Linked DNA regions of Homo sapiens. The protein of the gene in region 1 purifies or fractionates together with the protein of each later gene. This does not show direct contact. Each region holds a gene or a part of one and is shown on either strand. Other genes may lie near its edges.

Region 1 (3,094 bases):
CTCGACAAATCGGCTCCTGGGGATGAGGACCCAACAGCCAGCCCACGGAGACGGGGCTCTGATGGGGCTCACCTGGGCGCCTCCCTCCACCACCACCCGCAGCTCTGCCATCCTGAGGCCCCTGAGGCCTGTGGTGGAGAGAGCAGAAGGGGGGGCTTGGCCTGGGGTAGAGAGGTAGCACCTCACTCTCATGGGGCTGGGTTTCTCCTCACCAGCCCTGTTTTGGAATCCAACGCACAGTTTCGGAGTCCCAACCCCTCTCCTCCCCTTCCTGAAGCACCAGAGCTGGGTCTTCCAGGCCTCTAGACTCTGCCCCTTCTCCATCGGCTGCCCTGCCCTGGTGGGAGAGGGATAAAAGGGAGGGTGGCCCAGGGCTGCAAAGGTCAGGGGTCAGAAGGCTGAACCCTAGGTGGAAGCAGGGGTCGGCGTCAGCCCCAGGTGGACAGGACCACGCAGTCTCTGGCTAGGCCAACATCCAACCCCCAACCTTAACCCCCTCTGGACCCTTGCTTTCCAGTGTCCCCAGGCATGGGAAAAAACAGACACTGGAGAATAAATAATTTATTGAAATTGGAGGAATAAATAAGATATGTGGGCAGGGTTACAAATACCTATAAAAATCATTAACATTTATATACACAAAAGCGCTGGGGCCCGGGGCGGGGCCGGAAGTCGTGGGGGCGGGGACATGAGGCCGTTGGGCGGGGCCTGATGCCTTGGAGGCGGGGCCTGAGGCCGTCGGGCGGGTCGGGGAGGGGGTTTCCTTTCCGCAGCAGCCGTCCGGGCCCCCAGAGGTAGAGGTAGATGAGCCTATTTACGGCGGGGGAAACCGCCCGAGGCCGCCGCAGATCCAGATCCAGATGTGGATCTGGCCGCCTTTCAGATCCGAGCCCCGCGTCCCGCTGCGCCCTAGGAGCGCGCGGCGGCCCCAGAGCCCTGGCTCGGTGCCCTGAGGGCCCCACCCCCCTGAGCGCGCCCGCGGAGCTGCACCCCTTGCACGATCTTCTCCACCCAGGAGCGGTGCGCAGAGAGGCTGATGTAGACCCCGGGCCTGTTGCGCTCGGCACAGCCCTCGCCCCAGCTGATGATGCCGGCCAGCAGCCAGGCGCCGTCCACCTGGCACATGAGGGGGCCCCCGGAGTCGCCCTGCAGAGAGGAGGCGAGGTTAGGAACCCCCGTGGCACAGGGGGTGGCAGAATCCAGGGCCCGTGCCCTGTCAGGGGGCAGATGAGCCCCTTCCCGGGAGCCCGTTTCTCCTTCCTGGAGGAGACAGGACCTGAGCTCCACCCAGGTGAGAAGTCCCCGGCGGCAGAGTAGGAGCTGCAGCCAGGCCTTAAGACGTCCAGGCGCGGGTGCTGCCGCTGCACCATCTGACCGTCTTCCAGACAGCCCCTGAGCTACAGCTGGCTCTGGGCACTGAGGCGTGGGAAGCCCCCTGAAGGAAATGAAAGCTCGCGGAGGGCGAGGTGGTGCAGCTGGGATGCCCAGTTTAATGTCTGAACAAATAAGTGAGTGGCTGAGCCAGGCTGAGGCTGGTTCTATGGGGACCCGGGACTGTCAGGCACAGCCAGTTCTGGGGAGGAGGCCAGGGAGAGGTTGTGGGGCTCAGTGGGGACAGGACTGACGCTGGCTCCTTCCCGAGGCCCTCCTGGCCAGGGGTGGGGGGCTCGAGGGAGCTCACCAGACAAGCATCCCGCTCCCCCTCCAAGTAGCCGGCACACAGCATGTCCTCAGTGATGGGTCCCTGTCCTGCTCCCCGCCAGTACAGATGGCTGCAGACTTCCGAGTCGATGATAGGAACCTTCAGCTTCTGCAGGGTCTGAGGGTGGGGCAAGGGAACTGGGAGGAAAGAGGACAGAATCAGGTTTGGGGGTCTCCCCTCCTCGTTGCCTCCTCAAAGGACTATTCCCCCCCAACACCATTCCTCTCAGCAGCGGTTCTCAAAGGCTAACAGATTAGCTCTACCAGTCTCTCCCAAGATGCCTTCAGAAAATTGAAATTCCAGGTCTCCACCTCTGGCCCTGCTGAATTAGAACATGAATGTGAAACCTAAGACCCTACCTCTTTAATAAATTTTCTTATATCCACAGATGGTTAGAGCCCTTCCTGTCTCAGATACTGCATTACTTCATCCAGCACTGGGACTGCTATAGAAGAAGTGTTCAATAAATGTCCACTCGATGTTGAAAATTACCAGGACCTGAGGGATCCCCACGCCTTGCCTGGAGCTGGTCTACAGACTGTGGTCTGCAGATTGTGGACTGAAAGTCCGCGATTCTAGCTCTTGAAGAAGCCCCTACAGAGATCATGGAGAGGTTGCAACCTCAGAGTTACTGGGATCCCCACACACCTGAGCTAGTGTCATTTCTCTTAATTATTCTGGAATCTGGTTAAATTTTCATCTGTCTTACACTTTGTTATTACTTAGTCTCTAGCTCTCTCTTTCAAACTCTTTCTTCCAGGTCTTCATTGTATCCTCATTTCTGCCTGTATGTTTCTTTTCCTTGGCCCAGTCTCTATCATCCATCTGCCTGTCGATCTGTCATCTACCTTTCTCTTGCTGCTTCCCTGCTTCTTGCTTTATGTAATCTAGTTTGAGTTTTGAGATGATGTTTTCCAAACCTCCAGTGGTGGTTTGAAAATTATATTTTACAATTAAGGTGGCTGCATTTTCTCCCGAGAATTTTGCCCGCAATTGTGGCATGCTACCACCAGGGGGTGCCTGTTCCCACTCTGGAATCAGGCCTCTTTATATTCACCCTGTATTCAGCTTAGTCCCACACACACCCCCTTTCAGCCATTCCTGTATTGATGAATTGAATAGCTTCACGGGTCTGGCTGTTGCCTCAAAACATAGCCAGATACTTTTGAAGTAGAAATGAGGCCAGGCACAGTGGCTCACACCTGTAATCCCGGCACTTTGGGAGGCTGAGGCTGGTGGATTGCTTGAGCCCAACAGTTCAAGACCAGCCCAGCCAACACAGAAAAACCCTGTCTCTACAAAAAATACAAAAATTAGCCAGGTGTGGTAGCACACACCTGTAGTTCCAGCTACCTGGGAGGCTGAGGTGGGAGGATCACTTGAGCCTGGGAG
Region 2 (3,653 bases), about 67 Mb from region 1:
GCCTGCCACCATGGCTGGCTAATTTTGTATTTTTAGTACAGATGGGGTTTCACCACGTTGGCCAGGCTGGTCTCAAACTCTTGACCTCAGGTTATCCATCTGCCTCGGCCTCCCAAAGTGCTGAGATTATAGGTGTGAGCCACTGTGCCCAGACTTCTTTCTTTTTTTTTTGAGAGAGAGTCTCGCCCTGTCGCCCAGGCTGGAGAGCAGTGGCACAGTCTTGGCTCACTGCAAGCTCTGCCTCTGGGGTTCACACCATTCTCCTGCCTCAGCCTCCTGAGTAGCTGGGACTACAGGCGCCCACCACTACGCCCAGCTAATTTTTTGTATTTTTAGTAGAGACGGGGTTTCACTGTGTTAGCCAGGATGGTCTCTATCTGCTGACCTCGTGATCCTCCCGCCTTGGCCTCCCAAAGTGCTGGGATTACAGGCGTGAGCCACTGCGCCTGGCCGCCTTCTTTTTTTTATTTTGAGACAGTTTCGCTAGGTCACCTAGGCTGGAGTTCTGACTCCAGGCACGAGCCACCGTGCCTGGCCACACCCAGCTAATTTTCTAAAAATTTTTTTTGTAGGCCAAACATGGTGGCTCATGCCTGTAATCCCAGCACTTTAGCAGGCCGAGGTGGGTGGATCACGAGGTCAGGAGATAGAGACCATCCTGGCCAACATGGTGAAACCCCATCTCTACTAAACATAGAAAAATTAGCCAGGTGTGGTGGCATGTGCCTGTCGTCCCAGCTACTCAGGAGGCTGAGGCAGGAGAATCACTTGAACCCGGGAGGTGGAGGTTGCAGTGAGCCAAGATCGTGCCACTGCACTCCAGCCTGGGCGATAGAGCAAGACTCTGTCTCAAAACAAAACAAACAAAAAAAAACAAACAAATTTTTTTTTTTTTTGTAAAGACAGTGTCTTGCTATGTTGCCCAAGCTGGTCTAGAACTCCAAGTCTCAAGCAATCCTCCTGCCTCGTCCCCTCAAAGTGATGGGATTACAGGTGTGAGCCACTAGGCCAGGACTGAATTTGTTTAATTGCCTAATTTATTTATCTTCATTAGCAGAATAAAAACCCAGAATGTTTATGGCTATTGACTCTGGGGCTTATTCTGTTAATTATTTTTTGTTACTAATTTTTTCTACACTAGTTTGTTTTACAGTTAATATTATTTAAGTAATTTTAAAAGTGTTGTTGGCCGGACATGATGGCTCATACCTGTAATCTCAGCACTTTGGGAGCCTAAGGTGGGTGGATCATTGTAAGGTTAGGAGTTCGAGACCAGCCTGACCAACATGATGAAACCCAGTCTCTACTAAAAATACAAAAATATTAGCTGGGCATGGTGGTGCACACCTGTAATCCCAGCTACTCAGGAGGCTGAGGCAGGAGAATTGCTTGAACCCGGGAGGGGGAGGTTGCAGTGAGCCGAGATTGCACCACTGTACTCCAGCCTGGGCGACAGAATGAGATTCTGTCTCAAAAAAAAAAAAGTGTTAGAGGTTTGGTTGAGTTTTATGGATCTCTGAAACAAATGTGACCTTATGAAAATCAAGTCTGCATACAGTGTCCTAATGCCAACTTGAGGCCAGTTCTGAAAAGTAAATAATACAGTGAAACTTATTGGGAGATAATCATTTAAAATTTTGCAATTTGTATTCGAATTAGAAGGGTAGAGAATTCTGAATTTTTTTTTTTTTTTTTTTTTTGAGACAGAGTCTCAGTCTGTCTCCGGGCTGGAGTGCAGTGGCGCGATCTCGGCTCACTGCAACCTCCGCCTCCTGGGTTCAAGCGATTCTCCTGCCCCAGCCTCCCAAATAGCTGAGATTACATGAGCCCACCACCACACCCAGCTAATTTTTGTATTTTTAGTAGAGATGGGGTTTCGCCATGTTGGCCAGGCTGGTCTCGAACTCCTGACCTCAGGTGATCCGCCTGCCTCAGCCTTCCAAAATGCTGGGATTACAGGCATGAGCCACCGTGCCCGGCCCTTTTAGTTATTTTTAAATGTACAATATATTGTTGACTGTAGTCACCACATTGTGCTATCAAATGCTAGATCTTACTTATTTTAATTGTATTTTTGTACCCATTACCTTTTCAGCATTTTTGTCTGTTTTTATGTCCATTAAATGCTATAGTGATATCCTAACCTTTCCTTAATATATTAATGCAAACAGCAAAACATTTGCATTAAAATATATAATAGGTTTAGAATTTCTCAGAGAGAAGAGCTGGCTTTGCCTTTGAAATACCCATGGAGGCCGGGCACGGTGGCTCATGCCTGTAATCCCAGCACTTTGGGAGGCCGAGGCAGGTGGATCACCAGGTCAGGAGTTCAAGACCAGCCTGGCCAAGAGAGTGAAACCCACCTCTACTAAAAATACAAAAAAAAAAAAAATTAGCCAGGTGCAGTGGCAGGTGCCTGTAATCCTAGATACTTGGGAGGCTGAGGCAGGAGAATCGCTTGAACCTGGGCGGCAGAGGTTGCAGTGAGTCGAGATCATGCCATTGCACTCCAGCCTGGGCAACAGAGTGAGACTCTGTCTCAAAAAAAAAAAAAAAAAAAAAGAAAGAAAGAAATACCCACACATGGAAAACATCTTGGGGTCTCCACAGTGGAAAGAGGCCAGAAGATCAGTGAGCAGATTGTCATTGGCACCCCTGGGACTGTGCTGGACTGGTGCTCCAAGCTCAAGTTCATTGATCCCAAGAAAATCAAGGTGTTTGTTCTGGATGAGGCTGATGTCATGATAGCCACTCAGGGCCACCAAGATCAGAGCATCCGCATCCAGAGGTAGGGATCTCGAGGGTGGGGGACTCCTCAGATTCCCCATCTGCAGTGTCTTCTCCCTTCACTTCAGATGCCTCCTCTGGCTTCTGCCTGGGTCTTGGCTCTCGTACTCTCAGCAGCATTTGTTTGACGGGCCACTTCCGTGTCAGCGCTGGCCACAGTCCCTCCCAGCCTGGGTTGAGAAAGGAGACCTAGGGACTCTCCCCCAACCCCTGTCCCCATCCCAGGCCTGCTGCTCCTCCTCCCCAAGACGCTCCTCTCCCATCAGCCTTCCTGGGCATCTAGACCCTCCCAGCTGGGAAGGCTGTGCTTCTGTCGCTTCCCGGGGCCACCTGGGGCCACCTACCAGGGCCTTCCCTTGCAGGATGCTGCCCAGGAACTGCCAGATGCTGCTTTTCTCCGCCACCTTTGAAGACTCTGTGTGGAAGTTTGCCCAGAAAGTGGTCCCAGACCCAAACGTTATCAAACTGAAGCGTGAGGAAGAGACCCTGGACACCATCAAGCAGTACTATGTCCTGTGCAGCAGCAGAGACGAGAAGTTCCAGGCCTTGTGTAACCTCTACGGGGCCATCACCATTGCTCAAGCCATGATCTTCTGCCATGTGAGTAGCAGTGGCAGTGGCAGGCCTGGCCCTTCCCTCTCAGCCAGCTCCCCACAGGGCTCAGGAGGACTGGATGCCCCTGGGTGCCATGGGAAGAAACGAAGTGGTTTGTTCTCCTAAGGTTTTAGTGAGTCGTAAGAGGGAGACTTTGATTCCACTTCTTAGTGATTACTTGGAGAAAACCCCAAGTAACAGCCAATGAAATAATTTTTAGATTTTTAAGAATATAAGCTGGGCGGCTGGCACGGTGGCTCATGCCTGTAATC
Region 3 (3,653 bases), on another chromosome or scaffold:
TGCTAGCGGCAATACTGCTCTTTAATGCACCCAGAAGTTTGTATCCGTGCACATCAAGGCACAGTACCTTTCCTTAAACTTATTTATGACACAGAGACCTTTGTTCACAGGTTTCCTGCTGACCCTCTCCCCACTATTACACTATTGTCCTGCCACAACCCCCTCTCCAAGATGGTAGAGATAATGATCAATAAATACTGAGGGAACTCAGAGACAGGGTGCAGGTCCCCTGGGCCCACTTTTCTTTCTCTATACTTTGTCTCTGTGTCTTATTTCTTTTCTCAGTCTCTCGTCCCACATGACGAGAAACACCCACAGGTTGTGGAGGGGCAGGCCACCCCTTCAAAAATAATCAATGTCTTACCATCTGAAATTTATGAAAACAACAGAAATACATCACATCAAGTCCTCTGGGTGAATTTTTTTTTTTTTTTTTTTGAGACGGAGTCTTGCTCTGTCACGAGGCTGGAGTGCAGTGGCGCGATCTCGGCTCACTGCAACCTCCGCCTCCCGGGTTCAAGTGATTCTCCTGCCTCAGCCTCCCAAGTAGCTGGGACTACAGGCGTGTGCCACCACACCCAGCTAATTTATGTATTTTTAGTAGAGACAGGGTTTCACCATGTTGGCCAGGATGGTCTTGATCTCTTGACCTCATGATCCACCTGCCTTGGCCTCCCAAAGTGCTGGGATTATAGGCATGAGCCACCGCGCCTGGCCGGATTTGTTATTTCCCAATAATTTTAGTCATCTGGGTAATAATAGGCACCGTTACTATGCTGCCTAGTCATGAAACACAGTGGCTGGAGCAAATCAGGAAGGAATTTCACTTCCTCTGGACTCTGTTGAGTACGGCCTTGAACAAGTCACTTAAATCTTGCAGGGTCAGTGTTTCTCCATATGCAAAAAGAAGAGACTTAAGGGTGTGCTATGAAATATAAGAATCCTCCGAATTTTAAACAAGTGCATTCTCAGTGTTTTGGGCATACTTGGAAAAAAACAGCTTGCACCAAGTACTAAGAACCTCACCATTAGGAAGAAGAAAATTTTCAGGAACTGTCCAAGTTAAGAGACTACTTAAAATCAAACTTATCAATGACAGGTATCTGATCATGATAGATAAAAGCTACAGTTCTAAGATATGATCAGGACATGTTACCGATGTACATACAGAGGAATTATTCACTGCATACAAATTATAGGGTTGTGGGGATTTTGTTTTGTGAGAGTTCTCAAATTTACCAATTTCATAAATGAAAACTTGGTAAGGATTGCATAAAATTGCATAAAGATGCAATTTGGTGGACAACACGTCTTCACCTCAATTTGTTAAGAGAACCTGGGTTGTAATAAGAGCCATGAAAAATGGTAAGGTCAACTCAGACATGGTGGTGCACACTTGTAGTCTCAGCTACTAGGGAGGTTGAGGTGGGTGAATCACTTGAGCCCAGGAGTTCAAGGCCAGCCTGGGCAACATAGAGTGATCCGGTCTTAAAAAAAAAAAATGTAAAGATACATGTAACTTACCCTGGAGTTTATCTTACGTGATACAAAGCTAAAGTTGTTGCTAAATTTTGTTATTTTGTTACAGCATTTGCGCACTGATGCCCTGTTAGAGAAACTGAAAACCATATTAGGTTAAACATGACTTTAGAGAGGCTGGCAGACAGATTCCAAAATAAAATGAAGTTCTAATTTAGAATGGTTGTACTCTCTATCTTTACTAAGGTGTCCTGAGATGCCTATACACTCTGAAAAGATGCTGTTAGTTACATAAGTGGACGGACATTTATGGAGGGCAAGATTGCAACTGTCACCCAAACAGCTACTATAGAATGAGCACAGTAAAACCAGGGTACAGATTACCCATAGTACTTATTATGTTGTTGGAAACTGCTTGTTAATTTGTCTTCCTGGTCGCTAGCCTGCAAGCTCCATGAGGACAGAGACAATATGTGCCTGGTTCACTGCTGGATCCCTGACATACAGTATGCACTCAATAAATATTTGACTGACTGAATACAGAGACACCATAATTCAAAGTCTAGTCATGAGCTTTAGAAATGTAAGTTCTCGTGTCATCTATTCATCTAAAGATGACTGGGATCTACTAATTAAATTCACAAGGACCTGATCCAATAAACAAAGGTCCTAAGTGGGAGATATTAACTGGAATAACAATTGATGTTTGTCATCTGAATATAGCATCTTTTACTGGTCAACTAGGTGATTAAACGTTAGAACAGAGGGTATTTTGTGAGAAGAGCATTAAAGTATAAGTAGTAGAAGATTTTAGAGAAAACATTGTTAAGTTACAGTTGACTGATCCTTACTCTGTTTAAAGAACAGATAATCTTTTACAATCAAATCACCACCTCAAATCAGTACCAATAAATTTTTTACAAGCCAGCCATTTTTCCTTTTTCAATATTCTGCATCGGTTACATCAGAATTCTACTCTTTTTTTTTTTTTCTTGAGATGAAGTTTCGCTCTTGTCCCCTAGGCTGGAGTGCAATGGCACAATCTCGGTTCACTGCAACCTCTGCTTCCCAGGTTCAAGTGATTCTCTTGCCTCAGCCTCCCAATTACAGGCACACACCACCACTCCCGGCTAATTTTTGTATTTTTAGTAGAAACAGTGTTTCACCATGTTGGCCAGGTTGGTCTCGAACTCCTGACCTCACCTCAGGTGATTCACCTGCCTCAGCCTCCCAAAGTGCTTATAGGCATGAGCCAATGCGCCTGGCCTAGCAACTCCACTCTTAAAGTATTACTCTGTGTTATAATTTAAAACAATAAATGTTCTCTTTTTGCTACTTACGTTTTAATTTGTAGAATTCCAAATATGATTTTAGAGTTACTTTAAACTCAGTAGCTACAAATTTACAGAGTTTGGGGGAAATGTCTGTAAACTGTTAATTCCATATTTTGTAAATCCTTATTTATGCTCTATGTGTTCAATAATGCTTCCTTACCTGATGCCCAGATAATGAGGTCTTAGCTTTATCTTTTGGGTTTATAGCCCTGTACCTACCTAGCACTACAGGAGAAATAGGAAGGCAGCCAAAAGGAATACCTTAGGGCATTGATTTTAAACCTTATTTTGGTACAGACTACTAAGAGAACTTAATGAAAGCTTCCACGACCTTATTCCTAAAAACATGCATATACAAACAAATGTTGATATACTTTTTTGGTTATTACTAGATCCCCTAAATCTTGATCATAGGTCCCAGGATAAGTATTCTTGCCTTAAGGGCATAACTACACACAATTTCAGATAATGTAGCTTAGTACTGGTTTGACATTAATTTGGAATCATGCCATCAGGCTGACAAGATGCCAAAGGCGAAGCCATCAACCAAAGAATGGCTGAACCTATAAAAGTTAAAATTGTTTAAAAAAATTAAAACCAATCAACCAACTGTTGGGAGAAGCTAAAGCAGGGCTTGCATGTCTCACTTAATGTAAAAGAGTCTTGGAACATGTCCAGGGTCCAGGGTCTAAAACCCCTCATGGCCTTGGGAACACCAAGCTCTGTGCTAAAGGGCAGAAGGCTGCCCTGCAGCACCATAATCTAAGCCCAGGGCATAAAACCCTTCGTGGCTTGAATGGAATCCAGGGCTCAGGGCGTGGCCTCTGGAATGTGTCTAGA

The links.
Region 2: the proteins of PRSS22 (region 1) and DDX19B purify together in Homo sapiens (affinity purification with mass spectrometry; one large-scale study listed by BioGRID and IntAct). This does not show direct contact.
Region 3: the proteins of PRSS22 (region 1) and TCP11L1 purify together in Homo sapiens (affinity purification with mass spectrometry; one large-scale study listed by BioGRID and IntAct). This does not show direct contact.

Annotation. Positions count from the first base shown.
Region 1 is NC_000016.10:2,852,184-2,855,277, forward strand, and holds the end of PRSS22 (brain-specific serine protease 4 precursor), read right to left. Parts: intron 1,840-3,094; coding exon 1,682-1,839; intron 1,147-1,681; coding exon 910-1,146; 3' UTR 547-909; downstream 1-546. UniProt on the Homo sapiens protein: Preferentially cleaves the synthetic substrate H-D-Leu-Thr-Arg-pNA compared to tosyl-Gly-Pro-Arg-pNA.
Region 2 is NC_000016.10:70,326,682-70,330,334, forward strand, and holds part of DDX19B (ATP-dependent RNA helicase DDX19B), read left to right. Parts: intron 1-2,610; coding exon 2,611-2,788; intron 2,789-3,149; coding exon 3,150-3,387; intron 3,388-3,653. UniProt on the Homo sapiens protein: ATP-dependent RNA helicase involved in mRNA export from the nucleus.
Region 3 is NC_000011.10:33,046,034-33,049,686, reverse strand, and holds part of TCP11L1 (T-complex protein 11-like protein 1), read right to left. Parts: intron 1-3,653.